Linked DNA regions of Homo sapiens. The protein of the gene in region 2 purifies or fractionates together with the protein of the main gene of each other region. This does not show direct contact. Each region holds a gene or a part of one and is shown on either strand. Other genes may lie near its edges.

Region 1 (3,500 bases), on a different chromosome or scaffold from region 2:
GGTCCACCTGCAGCTTCAGGGCATTCACCTCGTCAATGTCCCCAGGGACCCTGCAGGGCACAGGGCAGGTCTCAGGCAACAGGAGCCTGTGCTGCGGCTTCATGATTCCGCCTGGACACTCCCTCCGGTAGGCCCCTGCTGACCCGGGGAGGGGAGCAAAACCTCAGGACCCCCCGCCACCCCGGTTGGCCTCTTTCCCACGAACGTGGGTGGGTGGCGCTCTTCAGGATTCCTGCCCCACACACCTGCGTCCGAGTGTGGTGCTTCCCCAGGCCACCGTCCCTCCCTGGACCCCTGCTGGCTCCCTGGGTGGATGCCCTCACCAAAGGGCCACTGGGGCTCAACCTGCAAGCCTCAGTTTCCCCAGCTGCCCTCCTGGGGCCTGGGTACCCCTTGCCCTGACAGGTGAGTCATGGGAGTGGGTGGCACCCTGTGCCATCCCTGTTCACAGACAAGGGCTGCCTGTCATCTGAGGCTCCCACTCCAGGCTACCCATGGCTGGTGTCCAAGCACGCTCTGGACCCCTGGTGGCCGTCTCTGCAGGGGCGCCCTCCCTGGCTGGCTGTGCTGCCTCTTTGGAATGGGTCCTGCCCTCTCTCCTGGCCTGCACACCCTCAGGGTCAGCTTCCACACTGTGGCCCCACCCTTCCATCTGCTCTCAGGTATGGGTGCGGAAGCAGCCCAGTGGGCCTGAGGCTTAATGGCCCCTGCATGCCACAGATGCATGGTGGACACATGGCTGTGGCCCCCACACCCGGCGCCCGGGGTTGCCGTGGCACCTGAAGATGCCCTCTGTCTGGTCACCGTTGAGCGCCAGCACCTCCTCAGAGAGCCGTGTCTGCACCCAGGGCAGCTGGCGCTCGGGGTAGCGCTCTCTCTGCATGCCCATGACCTCCTGCAGTGCGCTGCCGAACATGGACGGGCTGAACACGGCGTTCTTGGCATGCCGGATCTCCTCCACGTTGGGCTTCTTCAGCCCCTGTGAAGACAGAGGCTCCGTCCTGGTCTGGCCTGGCCATCCTCAGGACCCCCCGCCACCCCGGTTGTCTTCTTTCCCCGAACATAGGTGGGTGGCGCTCTTCAGAATTCCTGCCCCACACACCTGGGTCCGAGTGTGGTGTTTCCCCAGGCCACTGTCCATCCCTGGACCAGCCCTCCTCGCCCCCCAAACCCTAACTCCTCCTGGGCTGCCCCTGGCTCTGCCTCCCCCTCCTCTCATCCCTGTGAACTCCTGGCTCCAACTAGAGCTACGGACAAGCCCAGCTCCCTGGCCAGAGTCACCGTCTACAGCACCAGCTCACAGGGGCCCTTGGGAAGGTGGGAGTGAGTCCTGGGCCGGCCAGGGCTGTTGGGGAGCACAGCAGAGGCCAAGCTAGCTGAGCTGGGGTGAAACTTCCAGAAGTCTGTGGCAGGGCTGAGAGCGCTGGGGAGGGGTATGATGGGAGCAGCGCATCAGAGAGAAGAGGATGTGGGGAAGGGGCCAGGCTCTTGGGACAGGTCCAGGGAACGGGGTCCTGTCCCTGTGGTGCGGTGTGACTGAGCCCGTTGCCTGCCTTGCTCCTGAGCTGGGGGTCCGGGCCCAGGAAGAGCCCCCGGGGGAGGGTGCAGCCCAGAAGAACACGGGGTCAGCCTAGCGTACCCCGCCACCCGCCTAGGCGGGCTCCATGTGGCACCCTCTGCGCTGCTGCCCCATACCAAACTGCAGGCGGGGCTCCTGGGGCTGTCCACCAAGGGTCTCTGTGTCCCCGCCTGCCCTCCCCGGCCCCCCAGGCGCACCCGTACCTTCTTGGCCCCGGTCAGGGCTGCCTTCTGTAGCTTGTGGTAACAGTACTTGGCATACGTGCTTATCGCCACCCCTGGAAAGGAAAGGGGCCTGATCAGCCTGATGTGGGTGTGTGGGTGTGGGGCCAGGAGAGGGGTGAGCAGACACAGCTCCTTCGAGGGCCCTGGGGGGCTGGGCTGGCCTTGCCCCGGTCACCCCCTGCCCAGCACAGCGGGTCCTCACACTCTCCCAGGCAGTGTCCTTTAGAGCAGAGGCCCAAGGAGCACTTCCCCACCTGCAGAGGGACAGGCTTGGGAGGAACCGCCTGGCAGCTCCACCTGCCCTCCTACGGCCACGCAGGAACAGGAAGGGCAGGACCTGGGTCTGAGGGCCTCTAGACCCCACTGCTCCCTCCCCGGGGCCTGACCCAGGGAGCTGTCCAGGTATTTGACTCTTCTCTGCTTCAGGCCCCTCCCTGGCTTTTAGGCTGTGGGCAGGAGCCCCTGGAGGAGTCATTTCCACCTACCCAGCACCCGCAGCCAGTGCTGGGGGAGGCAGGCACTGAGCTATCTGCACAGCAAGCCCAGCTCTGCTGCAGCCCTGGGCCTGAAGTACCACCTCTGGGCTCTTCTGAAGGACTGAGGCAGCAATGAGAGGGCCCAGTCTCCTTTCTCAAAGGAGGGGCTTCCTAAAACTCAGCCCGACAGCAGGGTCCCTGAGGGGAGGGGCAGTGTGCCTGAGTCAGCACCTGATGAGGGACTCAGGGACCTCAGCCTGGGGAGTCTCCAGACACAGAGCCCAGGGGAAGGTGCTAGAGGGGAGAGGATTCCCAGGCTGGGTCTGGAAGGCGCGGCACCTTCCTGCTCCAGGTCGGGAAGCAGCAGATGAGAGAACACGCCAAGAGAAGCTGTCTGGGGCCAGGGGAGCCATGGACCTCGGACAGATGGACAGGACCCTGTGCTTCTGGACATGAGACCTGCCCCAGCGCCCAGCGCCTACCGCCTGCCAGGGTGAGGGGGGCCTCTGGATCCTGACCCCCAATCGGAACACCTTTGTCTTCTTTGAAGGAGCAGTTTCTGGTGGACAGCTGAGGGCATGGGGTCCTTGGACCAGGTTAAAAAAAAGTGCACACGTGTCTTGAGTCCATCTCTAATTATCACAGAATAGTTGACATGTGACTGCTAAGGAGACTCTTTTTTAGAGGAACCAAAATGAATTTTTTTTTTCATAGACGTTTAGGTCCTAGAAAATCTGTCATGGTCCTTGGGACCACAGGTCTTGGCAGAGGATGTGGCCCCAGCCTCCAGCGTGGGACCATGTGGAACCAAGGGCCCCTCTGGGCAGGCTATGAGGTACCCTTGTTTTTCTAGAATGGATGGTGCCCACGCACACTGGACCCAGGCTTCAGAGCCTCAAGAAGGCAAGGAGGGAATGAGCTTTGCAGGAAGGCGGCAGAAACCCAGGGCCTCAGCTCAGCAGCTGGGACATGTAGTCACTAGGCTGGGGGGCCTGGGGCAGACGGCAGGGCTGGGCCTCCTGCTTGCTGTCCCTGCGGGAAGACAGGCCCTGATCTCCTGTCCCCAGGCCCCTGGTGGGACAAACACCCCAGCCTGAGCCTGCTTGGGACTGGGACACCCTCCAACACTCTGTGACTGGGATACACTGGGGCCACCGCCTCTCAGCTGATGAAGGTGATCATAATGCAGTCTCTCTGTGCCTCAGTTTACTCCTCTGTAGG
Region 2 (4,101 bases):
TCATATCACCCTTCAGGAATGAATACTATTAATTTATTCAGAAATATGAACTTTCCTGATATAAAATATTTATAATAATACAATAATTTGAAAACTAACAATCAGACAAAGGAAATGAGTAACATTACTAAAGACAACAGTAGAAATTTAAAAAAAAGTAGAATTCAAGATTACTAAAGGGTTAAAAAAAACTAAGGTGAAAAGTGAGGAAGACAAAATTAACAGACGGTCGGAAAGCTACAGATACCTACATTATTCTAGAAATTCTGATTTCCTCCTAGAGTCCTGGCTTACAATATTTGGGAATATAGGCTTCAAGAACTTGAAATCATTACTTTCAGAGCCTCCCGTCAGACACACCTCGTACTGGTAGCTCTGGGAAAGGGTCCCGGTGCCGCTCACGTCCACCAGATGCCCTGGAAAGGGGCCCTCGGGCACCGAGCAGCGACCCACTGAGGCCGCCCTGCTCCTCCTGCACAGCCGCACTGCCACGAACAGGAACACCGAGAAGAGGAAGAGCGAAGACACCGAGGCCAATGCCACCACCAGGTAGACGGTAAGCGAGTCGGCCTGGGCTTGGGCCGGGGCCGCCTCTGGGAGCGGCAGGTAGGGCTGAGAGAAGCCGTCCACCAGGAGCACTTGCAGCGTGGCGGTGGCCGAGCGCGGAGGCTCGCCATTGTCCTTGACCAGCACCACTAGCCTGTGCTTGGCCACGTCGCGCTCGCTCAGCAGCCTGGCGGTGCGCACCTCGCCATTGTGCGCCCACACGCCGAACAGCCCGGGCTCCGTGGCCTTGAGCAGCTGGTACGACAGCCAGGCGTTCTGGCCCGAGTCGCCGTCCACCGCCACCACCTTGGTCACCAGGTAGCCCGGCTCGGCCGCCCGGGGCACCAGCTCGGTGCAGGGCGCGGAGCCGTTCTGCAGCGGGTACAGCACGAAGGGCGAGTTGTCGTTGGCGTCCAGCACCAGCACTCGCACCAGCGCCTCGCTGCTCAGCGCCGGGAAGCCGCGGTCTGTGGCGCCCACGCGGAACTCGAAAGCCTGCAGGGCCTCGTAGTCCAGCGACTGGAGAGCGAACAGGTGGCCGTTGTCCGTGTTAATGGAGACCAGGGAGGTGAGGGGCAGGTGCGGGTCCCGGGGCGGCAGCAGCGAGTAGGTGACCTGGGCGTTGGTGCCCGAGTCTCTGTCTGTGGCGCTGACACTGCCGATGTGCAGGGCGGGGCTGTTGTTCTCGCGGACGAACAGGGTGTAGGAGGTTTGGGTGAAGGCGGGGGCGTTGTCATTGACGTCCGACACCAGCACGGTTATGCTCTGCTCGGTTTTCAGCCTTGGAGTCCCCAAGTCTGTGATGGTGATGGTGATGTTGTACTCGGCTCTGGTCTCTCTGTCCAGCGCCCCTTCTGTTACCAGCCTGTAGAAATTCTCAACAGAAGGTTTTAGCTTAAAAGGAACATCATCCTGAATTGAGCAAATCATTTTTCCATTTTCCCCAGAGTCTCGGTCTCTAATCCTAAACAGGGCCACTTCTGTCTCTGGAGAATTCTCGGGAATAGGGCTGGTAAGTGATGAAATACTTAGTTCCGGGAAGTTATCGTTAACATCCAGCACCTTAACAGAGACAGAGCATTTTCCAGAAAGTCCCCCGCCATCAGATGCCTCTATATCTAGATCATACGAAGACATTGTCTCAAAATCTAGTTTTTTAATTAGTCGAATTTCTCCTGAAAGGCTGCTTAGCTCAAAAGGTTTGTCTATCTCCTGAGAGCTGTAATAAAGGGAGTATGATATCTCTCCATTTGTCCCAGTGTCTAAATCCCTAGCAGAGACCTTGACAACTAGGGAGCCTACTGGGCTGTTCTCTGGGACCTGCACCTCGTAGAGCGCCTGCACAAACTCCGGGGCATTGTCATTGGCGTCCAAGACCAAGATGAGGATCTGGACGGTGCCAGATCGGGGTGGAGAGCCACCGTCCACCGCTGTCAAGGTTAATCTGAGCTCGGCCTGCTCCTCGCGATCCAGTTCTGTGTCCAGCACCAGCTCTGGGTATTTCCTGCCATCCCCTCGGGTGCGAGTGGAAACATGGAAATGAGAATTGGGAGAAATATTGTAGTTTTGAACATTATTGCTGCCCACGTCCAAGTCCCGAGCTTTTTTCAGAGGAAACACAGTCCCAAGGGAGCTAGTTTCTGGGATTTTCAGGGTCATTTCTCTTTCAGGAAACTCAGGAGAATGATCGTTTATGTCTGTCACTAGTAGTTCAGCTCGAAATACTTCCAAAGGTTTTTTCAGTAACACTTGGAAATGCATTATACAGGGCTCAGTAGGGCCACACAGCTTCTCCCGGTCCAGCTTCTCATTTAATATCAACTGCCCGGTCTGCAGATCAAGCTGCAAGCCTTGTTCGTTATCCTCAGAAACTACCCGGGCTCCCCGCTCGGCTAGCTCCCCCACTCCCAGCCCTAGGTCATTGGCCAGGTTGGCTACAAAAGAACCTCTCTCTGTTTCCTCCATCACAGAATAGCGACGGGGTTCCCAGCCTGCCAGAGTCACTTCCAGTAAAAGAAGGAGAATCAGGACTTGCCTTTGTTCGGGAAAGCGCTCCCCTGCAGGCTCCATCTTTACTTCTGTACACGCCCCTTTCAAGGAACCGGAGTCAGAGCTACTTCAGGGAGCGATGGGACAGAGGCAGTGATCGATCTGTGCGTTGATAACCTGTTCGGAAATGTAGGAGAATAGCATTCTCCGGAGACACTGGTCCGTGCTCTGCTAACAGGCTTTCCTCTTAGGCTGAAAGAGGTCTGAAGTAGCTAGTAGCATTTCATGGGCTTTTTCCTTTTCCTTTTTTTGAAGCCTTAGCCTGCAGCGCCACCATGCGTTGTCTTTGCTTCGAAACGAATTGCTACAATTGATCTATTCTCTATTCTATTAGGAGTTTGGAAATTGGGAGGAAATGATGTAATCACAATATCACGCAATGGTAATTATTAATTTCTTCATTTAAAGGAGTATTATTGGTCTCTATGTGCCAAATTATGAAATACATCAGTAAACAACCCAGACATGGTCCCCACCCTCCAGAGCCTGTAGTCTGGGTGTAGTGTTCTGAGGGAAATTGAGAAGTGAAAGAAGACATAATAGTGATCAGTCATCTTGTAATAATAATAACATAAAGCCACGTGATTTCTTAAAAATTTATCAGCAAAACAAAATGAATTCTTTAATTTCTTTCAAATTCTAGACAGCCTATGTACCAGAATTGTGCTCCCATTGGTTGGATTACATCAAGAAAAAGCTACACGTTAATTCCAGTGTGGTATCCTTTCTACATAAAGTCAGAGAGTTATGATTTTATGAAAATTTTAAACTGTGGAAAAATACATATGAAGGCACTTCCTATATCTCTTACTTTGCTTTTTCTTTTTTTTCTTTTCATTTTTCCTTTTTTTTTTTTTGAGATGGGGTCTTGCTCTGTTGTCCAGGAGGGAGTGCAGTGGCACAATCACTGCTCATTGCAGCCTTGACTACCCAGGCTCAAGCAATCCCCCCACCTCAGCAACTGTAGCTGGGACCACAGTTGCGCATCACCATGCCTGGCTAATGTTTTAATTATTTGTAAAGATGAGGTCTTGCTATGTTGCCCGGGCTGGTCTCAAATTTCCGAGCTCAAGCAATCCTCCTGCCTCAGCCTCCCAAAGTGCTGGGGTTATAGGCATGAGCTGCTGTACCCAGCCCTGCCTTGTCTCTCTCGTATTTATTATCTGACGTAGTATAGATGTACTTATTTAGTTGTTTCCTTTCTGTTTCAACCTCACATGTTAGAACTTCATTTTGTTCACTGCTGCATCCCCAATATCTAAAATAATCCCTGGCACATGGTACGTGCTCAATAAATATTTGTTAAATGGATCCATTAATAAATCACAATTAATTTAAACATTCTGACAGATAGGTTCTCCTCCTACTGTAGAAATTCCCTCTTCTTCTGGGATTCAAGTTCATTATATAAGATGGATAAACAAAGACAACATGTTCATAAGGTAGCTATTTCCTATGCCCTTTAAATAGTAATGTGAAATAACTCAGAATGACCTAAAATGTCAT
Region 3 (3,500 bases), about 25 Mb from region 2:
GGCGGAAATTAGATCATGGGGCATTTGTAAGTGCTTACTAGATTTAACTCCATACGTCACAGTAAGTTACACAGCTTAAGACTGATTATCAACCAGAAAAAAAAGAAGAATGACACTTCTTAAGTTTTGGATAGATTTACCGTCAAGATCTCTTCCAAAATTACATTGTTTTGACATAAATGCAAGAAAACTGAGCTAAGATACTAAACTCTTTCATGAAATACTTTTATTTATAATGACTGGAATTTTAGTATTTTAGAAATAATAATTTAGGAATCATTCCAAACATATTTTTCTAAATATAGTTTAGCTATTTCATAGTTAAGTTTACAATAATGAATTCACCTTCTTAAAAGACCCCTAAACACTTACATAATTTACAATCAAGGCTATATGTAACCAAAATTAAACTAACATCCATCCCAACAGAATATGGGAAAATGGCATCTCTCCCTCCCTCCCTCCCTCCCTCCCTCCCTCCCTTCCTTCCTTCCTTCCCTCCCTCCCTCCCTTCATCCTCTCTTTCTCTGTCTCTCTCTCTCTCTTTCTTTTTGAGACAGAGTTTCACTCTGTCACCCAGGCTGGAGTGCAATGGTGCTATCTCAGCTCACTGCAGCCTCTGCCTCCTGGCTTCAAGCAATTCTCCTGCCTCAGCCACCAAAGTAGCTGCAATTACAGGCGCACACCACCACACCTGGCTGATTTTTGTACTTTTAGTAGAGATGGGGTTTCACCATGTTGCCCAGGCTGGTCTCGAACTCCTGAGCTCAGGAGATCTGCACGCCTAGGCCTCCCAAAATGCTAGGATTACAGGCGTGAGCCACTGCGCCTGGCCAGCATCTATTTCTTACACAGTAAAAATAATACTAAACTTATAAGTTCTGTAGAAACAACTTCCCAAGGTATATACTACTTCTATGTCTTCTAATAGCAAAAGGAGAAATGATCTTTGACAAGAATAAAAATTTCCTACTATGCTAGATACTCTTCTAGAGAAGATGTTTAATTTAAAAATATCTACATGCAATTTAAAGATTCTGAGAGTATATTTACAGACTATGACTGCAATTGTTCCCTGAAAGAGGCAAAAAGAACACAAATAGGAGGCTTTACTCCATTCTGAATCAGCGATTTAGTGATTATCTTAAAACTTTTGCTTTACTTTAAAAGGACAGCAAACTTCTGAAGAATATAAGTTTCAAAAAGGCCAGTAATGCTATTAAAAGCAAGCAAAATATTAATGCGGCAAGTACATATTTTGCCTTTAAAAATATAATCTTATCTTTAAGCTATAGTATAATACTGACAAAAATTCCTGTACAGAATGTAATACATCATATAAAACCACAGGACTGAGAAATCCTGTTAGTCCAAATAACTCATTTTATAGAGGAGAAAACTGAGGCCTGAGAATTTAAGTAACCTGTCCAAGGAAATCAGCTAGTTAGTGACAAAACTAGGATTAAACTAGATGTGAGGCCTCATCTCTGCTGCAATATTTGCTTTCTATTTTTTGTAAGGTTAAAAAAGAACAATCACAATTTCCAGCCACAATTTCTAATTCAAATAGCACCCTAGTAAGATTAATCAAGTTCTTACATGCAGTGCACTGTGCTGGGTGGTAAGTTTCCTAGGAGATAAGAAATCAAGAGGCTAGGATGAGAGGAAGTGATAGTAATGTCAAAGACAACTAAAATTAAATAAGTACAAGTAAAATTCAAAAACAGAAGCAGGTACACTTGTCTCAATTATTAAATTAGAAGCCTTGAGTTAACAGCAAAATTTGTAAGTATGTATTGGACATTTAAGGACAGCATGATATAATCTTTCAGGAAACCCAAGTTAAGTGTTCCACATGATAAAAAGTACCTTATGACCATGGATTCCCTGTTATCCAGAGTATTTCTCATCCATCATACACAGTAAAATACAGAAAATTCTAAGTTTCTCTGACTGATTTATGTTTGAGAACAAACCATTTTCATGGAAGTTATTAGTTTAAAAGTATTTGTTTGTAATATTTGGCAATATTCTTATTCATTTTAAAAATAGAAAAATTGATTAGCTGAATTAGGTATATTTGAAAAACAGACTTCAGTCTTGTAACAGTAAAATAAAGAATGTAATCTAATTTTTATGAACATTCACAAAAAGGAATACTCTGTAGTCATTAAAAAGAATAAGCTTGTCCTAGATGTGTTTCTATGCAAAGCTTTTGAAAATACTGAGAACCAGCAACATGCAAATGAGCATACAAAGTGTGATCTCATAAATAAAAATTTTAAGGTTGTAGGTTAGTCAACACATATAACATACTTTATATGTTAGTCAATACAAACTATTTTCTAGAAGGATACACAAGAAATTGGGTAGAAGGACTAAGGTTGAGAGATTCTTATTTTACATTTTATACTTCCCTGTAATGTTGGAATTTTTACGATTTAATATATTACCTTTATATAAAATTCCCTTCCAAAATTTTTAAGAGGAAAAAAGATTGCATATCTTTTAAAAATAATTCTTTAAGTTAGATTTATAGCTAACATAGGTGGCAATTAATTCACCTAATCCAATTAATCAAAAGTAGAAAACTTTTACCATAAACTGATTAAACAGTATATATTTTAATCACATAGTCAAAACTTAGAAATGTCTATGAAATGCTTTACTTACAATCCTCCTTCTAGGAAATTACAAACATTTTCATCTCTCTTAGATACCAAATGGAAAGTCTCCCTGATGATTTGCTGTTGTGTATCTTCACTCTGAGGAAGAATAATTCATATATATTAGGATGGAGTGTATAGGTTTAATAGCATTTTAAGAATTTTTAAAATCAAAGGTAGCAATATCTGTCTGGGAAATCCATCTAAGAGAGGGGTCCTTGGAGAAGTGACTTAAATTATACCTTACAGAAGCAAAACCCAGTATTTTTTGATGAAAAAGAAAAAAAACCCAATTATTTATATTTACCACTATAATAAAAGTAACACATTTCTAAGTTTCAAAAACCAACAAGAAAAAATATTAGATGAATTACATACACTGGTAAAAGGGAAACTAGATATTAACTAGTCAAAGCTGATTATCTTACAAATGAGTAAACTGAATCAGAAAGGTAAAGATATAAATAGTGTAGCTAATCTATATTTGAATGGAGGAAAGAAATAGAACTATGGAGCTTCCAATTAAGTTTAACCTTTACTAAATATAGACTGAGGTAAGAGTCCATCCATCTTACTCATCTTTATATAAGCCGATCTAAAGCCAAGGATTGGGTCAATAAACATTTATTAACCTGGACCAAGCAATTCATATTCCAGTAAGAGTCAGCGTCCTGGCCGGGCACAGTGGCTCATGCCTGTAATCCCAGCACTCTGAGAGGCCGAGATGGGTGGATCACAAGGTCAGGAGATCGAGACCATCCTGGCCAACACAGTGAAACCCCGTCTCTACTAAAAATACAAAAATAGCTGGGTGTGGTGGCACGTGCCTGTAAT
Region 4 (3,500 bases), on a different chromosome or scaffold from region 2:
AAAAATAGATCGCACCACTGCACTCCAGCCTGGCAACAGAGCGAGACTCTGTCTCAAAATAAATAAATAAATAAATAAAAAATAGGCCGGGCGCAGTGGCTCATGCCTGTAATCCTAGCACTTTGGGAGGCCGAGGCGGGCGGATCGTGAGGTCAGGAGATCGAGACCATCCTGGCTAACATGGTGAAACCCCGTCTCTACTAAAAATACAAAAAAAATTAGCCAGGCGTGGTGGCGGGTGCCTGTAATCCCAGCTACTCGGGAGGCTGAGGCAGGAGAATCGCTTGAACTCGGGAGGTGGAGCTTGCAGTAAGCCAAGATCGCACCACTGCACTCCAGCCTGCATGACAGAGCGAGATTCTGTCTCAAACAAAACAAAACAGAACAAAACAAAAATAAATAAATAAATAAATAAAAAATAAAGAATGCTACCCCTGTGACAACACCTTCCTTATTTGGGCTTCCCCGGTCTGGCTCCTGGCCACTCACCTTGGGCTCACCCTGAGCTGCAAAGCGGGTGCGCAGAACATCCACGGGGTGCACAGTGAGGGTGGCCATACAGGCAGCCAGGCCACCACATACAAAGTGCACTGAGAATTCCCGGGCGTCATACACGCTGCCTCTGTGGACCAGCTCCGTCAGCATTTCAAATGACAAGAACTGCAAGAGTAAGTGAAGAAGTCACCGACAGCCCAAAGGATGAGGGTGAGGACCAAATACTCCCCAAATACATCACCCGTGACCCGGCTGGGGCCCAGGTGGAGGGGCGAGGAAAAGGTCAGGAAATGTTCTTCTTGAGCAGTGACAGCATATGATAAATACAACATTCTACGCAAAACTCGGATGCCATTTGATACTTGAGTAGAGTCAGACACTCAAAGGGTTAAGAAGATATATGGGGGCCAGGTGCAGTGGCTCACACTTGTAATCCCAGCACTCTGGGGGGCCGAGGCGGGCAGATCACGAGGTCACAAGTTCGAGACCAGCCGGGTCAACATAGTGAAACCCTGTCTTTACTAAAAATACAAAAATTAGTCAGGCATGGTGGCGGGCACCTGTAGTCCCAGGTACTTGGGGGGCTGAGGCAGGAGAATCACTTGAACCCGGGAGGCAGAGCTGCACTGAGCCAAGATCATGCCACTGCGCTCTCCAGCCCGGGCGACAGAGCAAGACTCGGTCTCAAAAAAAAGACTGGGTGCAGTGGCCCACGCCTGTAATCCCAGCACTTTGGAAGGCCGAGGTGGGCAGATCATGAGGTCAGGAGTTGGAGACCAGCCTGGCCAATATGGTGGAACCCTGTCTCTACTAAAAATACAAAAATTAGCCAGGCATGGTGGCGTGGGCCTGTAACCCCAGCTACTTGGGAGGCTGAGGCAGAAGAATCGCCTGAACCCAGGAGGCGGAGGTTGCAGTGAGCTGAGATTGCGCCACTGCACTCCAGCCTGGGCAACAGAGTGAGACTCTGTCTCAAGAAAAAATAAAAAAGATACATGAGAACAATGTATATCAGAAAATGTCACTGGCTAACTTAGTTTTCTGAGAACTGGGGAAGACGGCCATGCTCTGATTCCTGCAGGGACCCCTTCAGTGCAGCTGGCGGCGGCACCTGGTGGCGGCACTGTTCGAGAATCATTCTTTTCTGGGGCAGATTCTTTTGGGAGCATGTTCCACAGGGTGACCCCCTTACATTCAGATCTTTCTTTTTTTTTTTTTTTTTTTTTTTTTAGGGACAAGAGTGTCTCTCTGTCACCCAGGCTGGAGTACAGTGGCACAAACACGGCTCACTGCAGCCTCAACCTCCTGGGCTCCAGTGATCCTCTCACCTCAGCTCCTCAAGTAGCTGGGATTACAGGCGCATGCCACCATGTCCAGCTAATTTTGGTATTTTTTGTAGAACCAGGGTTTCACTATGTTGCCAAGGCTGGTCTCAAACTCCTGAGCTCAAGCAATCTGCCCGCCTTGGGCTCCCAAAGGGCTGAGATTACACACATGAGCCACCGAGCTTGGCCCTGTTTTGCTTTTTGAGGCAAGGTCGTGCTCAGTTGCCCAGGCTGGAGTGCAGTGGCTCGATCACAGTTCACAGCAGCCTTGACTTCTCTAGCTCAAATTATTCTCCTGCCTCTGGAATAGCTGGGACGACAGGTGTGTACCACCATATCTGGCTAATTTATTTTTTATTTTTAGTAGAGAGGAGGTCTCCCTAATGTTGCCCAGGCTGGTCTCAAACTCCTGAGCTCAAGCCATCCTCCCACCTCAGCCTCCCAAAGTGATGGGATTACAGGTGTGAGCCACTATACCAGGGCTATGCTCAGATCTTCCTTCAGCCAACTGAAGATGGCCTGGCTTCTTTTCTTTTTTTGAGACAGGGTCTGGCTGTGTTGCCCAGGCTGAAGTGCAGTGGCATGATCGTGGCTCACTGCAGCCTCCGCCTCCCGGGCTCAGATGCTGGGATTACAGGTGTGAGCCACTGAGTCCAGCCCACGCCTGGCTTCTTGAGACTATCCTGTTGCTGTATTTATTCGTCATGCTGCAATATCTGTTTGCAGACAAGTGCAGAGACAGGATCGCAGGGCATGCCCAGCCAGTAAGCACCTGACTTGGGCGGTCACTGTGATGTCACAGGAAGAGTAGGAAGGGACATCTCTGGCACTAGCTGCCTAGGTGGGGGTCGTGGCTCTGCCATTTTCTAGCCAGTGGCTTTGGTTGGGTTAATTATGTAAGCTCTGTCCACCTCAGTCTTCTCATGCATGACATGGGAGGGACAACAGCCCCTACCTTAAGGACTGCTGTGACAGAGTGTATGTGAAGTGCTTCCAACAGGGGCCTGGCCCATGGTTTGCACTGTACAGGGCTGGTTCTTAAACACATCTACTGCATAAAATCACATGCTGTGCACTATGACTATACTAGTGCTCCACTGAACGAAGCATGAGTTCTAACCCTAGCCCCGCCATGTGCAGGCTGTGTGGCCTCGGACAGCTGACTTCTCCTCCCTGAGATCCACATGACAGCTACCCTGCCCTCCTCATGACGGTGTGGTGAAGTTCAGATGAACCACATATGTGAAGGTGGTATTTCAAAAACTGAAATGCATTAGTGCTGTCCTTCGCCAAGCCTCACAGAAGGCATGACATCAAATCGGTCTCCAAGATGCAACACCTAAGTCACACAGGATAGACGCAGGGACATGGCGGAGGGCAATGCCTACGGTACTGCTGGTCAGGAAGGCTCCCGGGTGAGGCAGGTGGGAAGCGTGGGGCCTGCCTCTTCCGTCCTGCCCTGCGCGGCATTCCTGCTTGCCTCACCCTCCCTCTGCTCCTCCACTGAGCAACGTGACCCCAGAGGTCTGGCCAGGTCCCTTGCCACCTACTTGGACAGCTCCATAGCCTATGGAGAGAATCTGAGCTGGGACGTGTCCTTTCCAGAAAGCTGTCGGACCCTCCTCCTGCAGAATCTGCCTAGAGGCCTGGAGGATGCCATGGTACTTTGCGCTGGGGTCA
Region 5 (3,500 bases), on a different chromosome or scaffold from region 2:
GTCAGATATTGTAGCCCAACAATTTCTAACTGCTGATTTGAAAAGGAGAGACCACCACGATTCTCAAGTCAACGCAGGAACCCTGATCCAGGATTTCTTTCTTTCTTCCTGTTTTTCTCATTGCTCTGTCTACCTGGACCAATGTTTACATTCCTTTGCTTTTCTTATTCCATCCTCACTTACCCCTTCTGACATTTCTCACCTCTTCTCTCAGAGGCTACATCGCTAAGAATGAATACTTCAGCTCAGGTAATTTCTTTCTTCAGTTACTTTCTTTTTCTTAGCATGCAAGCCTCAAAAAATCCTCACTTGAATTACCTGTGATTGCCTTGTTTCTCTAGGCCTTTGGCCCTTTCTAGAGAAGTGTAAACTTTGCAGAGGGTAATGTAAATGAAGGATCGGCAGAGGCAGAAATGCAGGAGCTCCAGGGTAAAAATCTGTCTGTCTAGCTGGCTCCCGGTCCATGGAGATTAGGATCCTGCTGTGCTCACAGGCACCCCCACTGATTACAGCCTCTGCTTTTTTTAGGCTTTGTTTACATATTCCCATCTCTACCTATCCTGAAACTAAACTCATCCCTCTTCCCACACACCCCACTCCTCTAAGCAGTGAGCAGTGCACCCATATCCAATTCCAACATCAATTTCAACATCACTGCCAACTTTCATATTCCCATGTATGGAAGCATGGGTAGATGTCCCTAACCAATTCTGAAAGCTCCCATAGTTTACAAGCAAACAATCATTTAAGCAAATGTAGTCTTCTCTGAATTGCACCAATAGAACAAATATAGCAACAATTATTATTCAGTACTATCCCTGCTATATACAAAGAAATACGATCATAAGTGTTCTCCTGGAAGGAACAGAGGCCATTTAGGCTTTAAATTGTCCAAAAAGCAAAGAAAACCAGAAAAGCTGGTTTCTTGGCTAAAGATTTATTTATTCCTGTTTCAAGAACAAATACACAGCCCTGAAAGTTTCTGGGCAAGAGTCAATCTGCATATGGAATGGATAATTCAAGACCATTGTTCTTTCTAGATTATAAACCCCAGAAAGGTAGGCTTGAAATGTGTCTGAATGACCAGCCTCACTTCATGTACAGGTCAGGTGCCAGCACCGAGAGGGTGTTTTGGCAAATGCCGTGCACATGTGAGCCAGTGTGTGATTCTTCACACTTCTCCATCAGTACGGGCTCCTCTGTGCCGGGCACTGTGCTAGGGGCTGGAGAGAACAAGACCATTAAGATGCTGCCTTCAAGAAATCTACACTGAGCAGAGAAAGAGATGCATGTTCACATAAAAAAGCAGCCAAGCATTGCAGGTGCTAAGAGAGCAGTCTGGGATGTTAGAAGGACACGATAACTCTGAGCTGAGAGGAAGGAAGGTCAAGGATGGCTCCACAGACATGAGGACACACACAAGCTGAGGCTTACGGATGGAGAGGGTGCTGGCCAGGAGTGAGAGAGAGAGGAAGAGACAGGAACAGGAAGAAACACCAGTAGAACCCAAAGTGGTTCGCATGGCTACCTTGGGTGTGAGGCGGGGGAGCAGAGAGAAAAGGGAGAGAGGCAGACAGGAGCCAGGCCTTGGGGCTCATGTCATTCCAAAGAAGATCTGGGCTCTTTCTCCTGAAGGTGAGGGGTGGCACTGAGGATTTTAAGTGGGAGAGCAAGATGATCAGGTTTGGGTTCGCTCTGGAAGCAGAGCTGTGAGATGGCATGAGTGGGCCTCTTCCCCACTCCGGGTTACTCCTGGCCTCTCTCCATCCCCTTACTCACAGTGGCCAGGGGGCAACTGAGCAGGTGATGCACAGTTCCAGCCCGACCTCCTCTTCCCCCATCTCAAGGCAGCAGGCCTCTGCTCCACCCTCCCTCCCCGAGGCTTGCCTGACCCCTCCTCCCAGGGGACCACACTGGCCAGTGCTGCCAGCCACTCAGGGGGAGTCAGCCTCATGCTGGGGTTCAGTCTCAGCAGGCCCACCAACCTACAGAGACAGTCACTTCCTCCAACCTGGTCTTAGTAGTAATAAAGGTGATATCTAGCTCTGACTGTCACTTCTAGTTGTATTTCTCAGTTTGTTCAGATCCTGGGTGGGGAAAGAGGACTCTTGGGGAACTTAACATAAAACTGGATTGAAGGGATGTGAGACTGGAAATCAGGAGACCAGTCAGGAAGTTATTAGAAGATGACGGGTGCCCAGAAGAGGGCCAAGAGACACCAAGAGGGAGAGCGTGCTGTGGAGGAAGCAGGGCAGAGGCAGGGGACGCTGGGAGCTCCATCCATCCTGACTGCATCATGGACACACACGCTTCCCTGCCACGAGCTGCCTCTCTAAGATCACTGAACCGGGAAGCGCAAACACCACTTCAGCTTCTCTCTCCCTTGGTTCCTAGGACAGAATGAGCAAGCACAGCTGCTGTCAGCAGTGGCCTGTGTGTCTTACCCATGTATGGGGCAGGCCAGGCCGACTGGCCCCCTCCTCCATAGGGGTCCTGGGGCTTGGTACTCAGAGCACTCGTGTGAAGAGCAGAATCAGAATTGGTCCTAAGGAGGGGAGGAGAGAGGCTGGCTGAAAATCCGTTTTCCTTAGTGAAAATGCAATAGTCTTTGTTGAATATTACCAACAGGAAAGAAGGCAAGAATAACTGATTTATAATCAACCATCAAATAAGGGGTTAGGACCTACCTGAAGTTCTTTATATCAATTAACAGCCTCTGAGGATCGCCCACACTCCAGAATATTTTAACTTAGACTCATATAGCCTTATATGCTGAAGCTGATGGCATGGCGATCAAGTTCAACAAGGTGGGCCTCGGATTCATGGCTTCCGTCTAAGAGCTTCCTATTCTTCCCAGCTCGGAAGCTGGCTGTGGCCAGTTTAGCCTGTGGCTGCACTAGGTTTTCTCCACCTGAGAGTAGCTGTTTCTAAGTAAAGGATCACTTAGAGCAGTGGTTTGCAAAACCCTTCCAGGGAGAAGGTAAGATCAAGACTATTCTCAAAATGATAGTAAAGTGTCCTCTGTTTTTTCACTCTCGCTCTCTCCCAAGCACGGCGGGCTTCCCCAGCGGCCACGTGAGGTGTGATGCCCCCACCGCTGAGCGCAGGCACAGACCACCCAGCTGCCTTGGAGGGATTTGTAAAAGGTGAACATTGTCACTATTTTCAATACTTTTTTTGTGTTTCTTTTCAAAAAGATATAATTTATGTTAACATGTAATGGGCTTATTATTTTTTTAATTCACTAGTATCTTTAAAAAATCTCTCAGTTTAATTTCTAATATCAATAGATATTCTCACATAAACAAATACTCTTTGAGGGCCTCAATATTTTTTTTATTTTATTTTATTATTTTTTTCTGAGACAGAGTCTCGCTCTGTTGCCCAGGCTGGAGTGCAGTGGTGTGATCTCGGCTCACTGCAACATCTGCCTCCCGTGTTCAAGAAATTCTTCTCCCTCAGCCTCCCGTGTAGCTGGGATTATAGACGTGCGTCACCAT
Region 6 (2,816 bases), on a different chromosome or scaffold from region 2:
CTCCCGCCTCCGCCATTCTGATCAGCAGCTCGCCTCATGCTAGCAGGGGGCACACCAAATCCTGATACTCCTCCTCTCCTACTGGGCAGCCAGCGGTACCTGGTGCAGAAAGACGGGGACACAAACGGAGAGAAGAGAACAAAGTCACTTCCACATAGTTATCTGACCTCCGAGAACACCTCCCTCTCCTGCTGTTCCCATGGCACTTGTCATGTTGAAGGCAGCGAGGGACGTCTTATTTAACTTTGTCTTTTCTGTACTCAGCCCCATGACCTGACCACAGACGGCATTCGTTTTTCATGTTTCTTAAATGTATTCAGATTTCAGCTAAATTCACACTCTGAACGTTTTTTTCTCTGCTTATAAAAGTAATCCATGCAGAACAGTATGGAAACAAAAATATTACACCCACAAGCCCAGCAACCAAAGAATGACTGATAGCATCTTGGTATATCTAAATATGGCTCAAACTGGATCAAAGGATACAAAATACATTCACTTTCAAAGGCCAAATCCACAGCCTGCATGTTTGAGCCTTGCACAGCATTTCTAAAAGGCTCTCAGCTGAGCCCATCAAAGGAGACAGGGGAAGAAGGCTTTCTATGTTGGAAGTATGGGTATGTTTTAAAATTTATTCAGAATCTGCCTTCCAGGTACATTCTTCCCTTCTCACAGATGGTGGGAGAGCTGGGGCCCCAGACGGTTAGATGATTTCCCACCTTAAAATTAATAAACTAAGAGTTCACAGAACAGCTAAGAGAACTTAAACCCAAGCCTACACTCTCAATAGTATTTTCCAACTATTTCCCATCTTTGACTCTTTTATTAGTAAACTGAGAATGTGTTTAAACCTATTCCACTTAGCAGATCCTAATGTTTAAAATTTTGCTTGAAGGCAGAGAGCATGATCTGATACCTCCGCTTAAACCCTTCTTGGCAGCAAGAGTAAGTCATGACAGGTGACTTGTCCACAGCAGAAACCCTGAAGAGGACAGGCTTTATACTTGACCTTATACTAGAGCAGTTACTATGTGAATTTACTCAGTGATTATTGCCTTACACTAGGTGCTGCCTGCTTATAAATTCATCTGATCTTCACAATAACCCCATGAGGTAGGCATTACTATTACTCCTGTTTTATAAACAAGAAAATTGAGCCAACACTGAGTGAAGCGCTTCGAAAGTGACAGGATTCCAACCTAGTCAGCCTGGTTCCAGAGCCTGCGCCCTGCACTACTTGTTATACTACATGCATCCTGCCTGGGAAGGGACAGCAGTCAGTGACTGGAGTCTGTTTACATCATACTCGATACCTTCATGCCTCTTCCCAAAACAGACAACAACTCGGGTTTTTGTTTTTTTGTTTTTTTTTGAGACGGAGTCTCACTCTGTCACCAGGCTGGAGTGCAGTAGCATGATCTCAGCTCACTGCAACCTCCACCTCCCGGGTTCAAGCAATTCTCCTGCCTCAGCCTCCCGAGTAGCTGGGACAACAGGCGCCCGCTACCATGTCCAGCTAATTTTTGTATTTTTAGTGGAGCCAGGGTTTCACCATGTTAGCCAGGATGGTCTCGATCTCCTGACCTCGTGATCCACCCGTCGGCCTCCCAAAATGCTGGGATTACCGACGTGAGCAACCACGCCTGGCCAAAAACCCCTTTTAAACACAAAATTTAGTGTGTACAGAGAAGATATAACTACTCTAAATGGAATGGAAAATGGTGATACAAATGTATCAGCATTCCATTTAGAAAAGCAGTTATACCTTCCTATACTCACCTCCTCCATTTTAAACAAATACAGCTTTACCATTAAATCAAAATGTATTTTCCAAGTGCTGGTTTCTCAACATCCATGCCTTCTGGTACAATAATATTCCTCCAAAGTACATAATAAAATAGAACACTTGCTGGAGAAAATGCTAGGGCTGTCTTGCTTTGCTACTCACTCTAAGACAATATGGAAGCCATCTCCACTGCTTAAGTAGATAGTGAAATTAAATGCAAATAATTAGTATAAAAAGATACCCAATTATACATAATCAACAAAAATTTATGGTAATTTCAAAGCAGTTACTGCTTTTGCAAGGAGCTGTATTTTGTCATCTGATCTTTATGCAAAATTTAGCAGAAGGACTTCCCCCAACAGAGAAAGTTCAAGTGGAAGGCAGGCTCCAGGGCTCGCTGATTTTGCCACTAGAATCTTGTATCCTGTGTTGCCCACAACTGAGAAGTAGCTACAAGCCGTTAAGTTAGAATATGGCCATTTAAAGTAAAGTAACTGTTGGCTGCCCCCCAAAAGCACCAAGCTTTTTTTAATTGATGCATCTGCCATCCTACTTGATAAACCTAGATCAGAAAGCCAAACCTGCTGTTATTATGTCCTTTGATAATTAGAAACCAGATTGGTCATTTGTTTTTTTAGCCTGAAGGCAATTCAAGGCTCAGAAGAGAAACAAGTTTCTTTTTATTCTCTTAAAGAAAAACACACACACCACAACCACCAATATGGTATATCTCTGTATATTACAGTTCACAATTTGAAAAGTCTTTGAAAAACATACCCCTACCCTATAAAAGGAAGGGGAGAAAGAGGAGGCCTGCTCAAGTTTTACTGCCCTCACTGATCCCTTAGAGGAATGACAGAACTGCAAAACATTAAAATTAGCAAGATGTGGAAGGGTTTGGTTTGTTTGTTTTTTTAAAGCTTTCAAATGCAAGCTATTACTGCATATCCCTGATATGAGATTAGGCATGATTGTCAGGCAGGCTGTGACACCCAGATGGTGATTTAACTGGCCCGTTCTTCGACAGCCT
Region 7 (2,541 bases), on a different chromosome or scaffold from region 2:
GGATTGGCCTGTTATCTTCTTTAGAACTAAGTTCATCTTAAAAATTTAAGAAGGTGGACATTTCAACACCATCAAGTGCATTTAGGTGACATGTTTAAGTTAACTTGACTTCCTTGAATGACCTAGTTAGTAAACTAGTCACTAGTAATTCGGTCACCAAGCAAATCAAGCCTGCAAGAAAGGAAGCCAATATTCAAAATGCCATGTTACCATCTAAACCCATACAAATTAGTTTATTTCCAACAATAATAGGTAACTTTAATAATAAGACATCTAACTAAAGCAAGCTCCTCCAACAAGACCAAGACAGCATCTCTTCTTCTAAGGCTTAGGTTTTGCCCAGAATTCCCGATACATGGAATAGCCCATACCTAAAGAAAAAGAATGCTAGTTAAGCATTTCAGTATTTTCTTAAATATTCAAAAATAAAAACCAGTTCATAAAATAGCTGAAAGTAGCACCACTGCTAGCATGGAATATTTACAAGGGGAATAAGACCCTAGGAAGCTTATACTCTTGCCTTCTTAAACATCTTAAATCTCTAAAACTCTTGTTACATACAGTAGTTTCCCAAGTAGCAAAGGGCTGGTATGGCTACTTCACATGTTACAATATTTCTTTGAAAGAACAATCAATATTTATCTGGTAACTTTGAAAGGAATCACTCTTGCTACATAATACCAGATAAAGTCAATGAATTATAAAGCCAATAGAAGAAGCATGTAATACCTAAACTTTAAGAATCTCTCCTTTAAAAACACAATAAAATAGCAATTGTATGTCTCTCCCAGATAACAGATGTTACTATCAACCCCAATTACATGTCTAGGCTCTTCAATGAAATTATAAACTCAGTGATTGACAGGATTTTTTTTTTCTTTAAAATCTTAGTAGGATATATCATAGAAAAACTATGTCACTACTTGAATTATCTTCATTAATTCATTTTTTACATGAAAATGAGTATAAGTGATATTCTCCAACTGCTAAAAGGTCAGCTAAAAATATTTACCTATTTTGTTTGTAAAGAAATACCTTAATGAGAAACGAAAATTTGAAATTTCCTATAGGAACCTACCAACAGTCATTGCTCCTACAACAAAGCCTTGGGCTGCCACACGCATGTGGATCAGATGAATGGACATTTTAGTATTTCCCCTGCTCTTCAGTTTATATAATCCATATGCAACAATTGCTGCAAAACCCGCTATTCCTGTAAAACAAAGTAACAAGTATGTCAGATGCATGAGAAGGGACCAAGATGACTTTACCATCAGTCAATGTACATTCTATTATTTTTATGAGGATTCTTTATCAGATCATTAATTAGCTAACATACAAATTGAGTTTTTCATGTTTTCCCCTATCAAAACCAAAAATCTTTAAGCAAACAACAACAGATCCAGAAAGTCAGGATTATCTTTAAAAACATGGGTTTGTGGGGCCAGTAGATAAACTCCTTTAAAAAACTGCTAGGGAATTAACAGGAACCTAGATTATGATTATCAGAACGAAAGTGTGCCAAAGGTCTTGACTTAGAGAATGAATTTATTCCATTTCCTCTCTGTCCTATTTCCCTCCCTCAAGGTAATCAGTTAATATACCAGAGACAATCCTACACACTACTACCACTGAGAAACATTGCCTGAATATTTCAAACTTTGGGATATTGTACTGGGAAGAAGTAAATAAAGGAAAAGAATAGAGCAATATTAGTTTCAGTTAAAAGGATTATGATCCTAGAGTTCTATACAGAGCCAAACTCTCATTCATTTTGAGGGCAAAAGCATTCAGGACATGACCTTCCATGTTTTCTTTTTAAGATTTATTATTTTATTTTTTAAGAGATGGGGTCTTGCTCTGTTGCCCAGGCTGGAGTGCAGCCGCACAATCATAGCTCACTGCAGCCTTGTTCTCCCAGGCTCAGGTGATCCTCTTCGCTCAGCCTCCCTAATAACTGGGACTACAGGAGGGCTGTCTTTCCCAAGCTGCCACCCAGGTACTGATACAAAAACCTAGAGGAAAATATCCAGTCAAATAAAAACAGTGAGTCAAAATGGACAGTTCAAGAAATAAAGACATAATGGTTAAGATATAATGGTGAGCAATAAAGACAGAAAAATCTGTACTGGTTCCTTGAAAATGACTGGTATAATATAGCAAAATTAAGAATCTGAAATTAGGCTATGATTATCACAACAAAACGTGTGCTAAAGGTCTTAGGGAATAAATTTATATTCATTTTAATACAGGAAATAGATGAAAAAAACACATCCTAGTTTGACAATGTAAAGATAACCACCAGCAAGCAGTGTAAGAATAGCCGCAGAACTTCCAAATCATAAGGAGGAAAAAAAAATTAGGGCTGGGAGCAGTAGCTCACACCCATCATCCCAGCACTTTGGGAGGTTGAGGCAGGTGGATCACCTGAGATCAGGGGTTTGAGACCAGCCTGGCCAACAGCCTGGTCATCTCTACTAAAAATACAAAAAATTAGCCGGGCATGGTGGCATGCGCCTGTAATCCCAGCTACTTGGGAGG

The links.
Region 1: the proteins of PCDHB15 (region 2) and ARHGAP39 purify together in Homo sapiens (affinity purification with mass spectrometry; one large-scale study listed by BioGRID and IntAct). This does not show direct contact.
Region 3: the proteins of PCDHB15 (region 2) and AP3S1 purify together in Homo sapiens (affinity purification with mass spectrometry; one large-scale study listed by BioGRID and IntAct). This does not show direct contact.
Region 4: the proteins of PCDHB15 (region 2) and SLC25A19 purify together in Homo sapiens (affinity purification with mass spectrometry; one large-scale study listed by BioGRID and IntAct). This does not show direct contact.
Region 5: the proteins of PCDHB15 (region 2) and CRTC3 purify together in Homo sapiens (affinity purification with mass spectrometry; one large-scale study listed by BioGRID and IntAct). This does not show direct contact.
Region 6: the proteins of PCDHB15 (region 2) and DERL1 purify together in Homo sapiens (affinity purification with mass spectrometry, with the first as the bait; one large-scale study listed by BioGRID). This does not show direct contact.
Region 7: the proteins of PCDHB15 (region 2) and HIGD1A purify together in Homo sapiens (affinity purification with mass spectrometry, with the first as the bait; one large-scale study listed by BioGRID). This does not show direct contact.

What each region holds. Positions count from the first base shown.
Region 1 is NC_000008.11:144,532,347-144,535,846, forward strand, and holds part of ARHGAP39 (rho GTPase-activating protein 39), read right to left. Parts: intron 1,857-3,500; coding exon 1,783-1,856; intron 980-1,782; coding exon 780-979; intron 51-779; coding exon 1-50.
Region 2 is NC_000005.10:141,244,094-141,248,194, reverse strand, and holds the start of PCDHB15 (protocadherin beta-15 precursor), read right to left. Parts: upstream 2,801-4,101; 5' UTR 2,617-2,800; coding exon 253-2,616; 3' UTR 1-252. UniProt on the Homo sapiens protein: Potential calcium-dependent cell-adhesion protein. May be involved in the establishment and maintenance of specific neuronal connections in the brain.
Region 3 is NC_000005.10:115,865,935-115,869,434, reverse strand, and holds part of AP3S1 (AP-3 complex subunit sigma-1), read right to left. Parts: intron 2,766-3,500; coding exon 2,674-2,765; intron 1-2,673. UniProt on the Homo sapiens protein: Part of the AP-3 complex, an adaptor-related complex which is not clathrin-associated. The complex is associated with the Golgi region as well as more peripheral structures.
Region 4 is NC_000017.11:75,282,934-75,286,433, forward strand, and holds part of SLC25A19 (mitochondrial thiamine pyrophosphate carrier), read right to left. Parts: coding exon 3,371-3,500; intron 661-3,370; coding exon 490-660; intron 1-489. UniProt on the Homo sapiens protein: Mitochondrial transporter mediating uptake of thiamine diphosphate into mitochondria. It is not clear if the antiporter activity is affected by the membrane potential or by the proton electrochemical gradient.
Region 5 is NC_000015.10:90,606,423-90,609,922, reverse strand, and holds part of CRTC3 (CREB-regulated transcription coactivator 3), read right to left. Parts: intron 2,546-3,500; coding exon 2,445-2,545; intron 1-2,444. UniProt on the Homo sapiens protein: Transcriptional coactivator for CREB1 which activates transcription through both consensus and variant cAMP response element (CRE) sites.
Region 6 is NC_000008.11:123,015,487-123,018,302, forward strand, and holds part of DERL1 (derlin-1), read right to left. Parts: intron 100-2,816; coding exon 1-99. UniProt on the Homo sapiens protein: Functional component of endoplasmic reticulum-associated degradation (ERAD) for misfolded lumenal proteins. Forms homotetramers which encircle a large channel traversing the endoplasmic reticulum (ER) membrane.
Region 7 is NC_000003.12:42,784,950-42,787,490, forward strand, and holds part of HIGD1A (HIG1 domain family member 1A, mitochondrial), read right to left. Parts: intron 1,214-2,541; coding exon 1,079-1,213; intron 372-1,078; coding exon 322-371; 3' UTR 1-321. UniProt on the Homo sapiens protein: Proposed subunit of cytochrome c oxidase (COX, complex IV), which is the terminal component of the mitochondrial respiratory chain that catalyzes the reduction of oxygen to water. May play a role in the assembly of respiratory supercomplexes.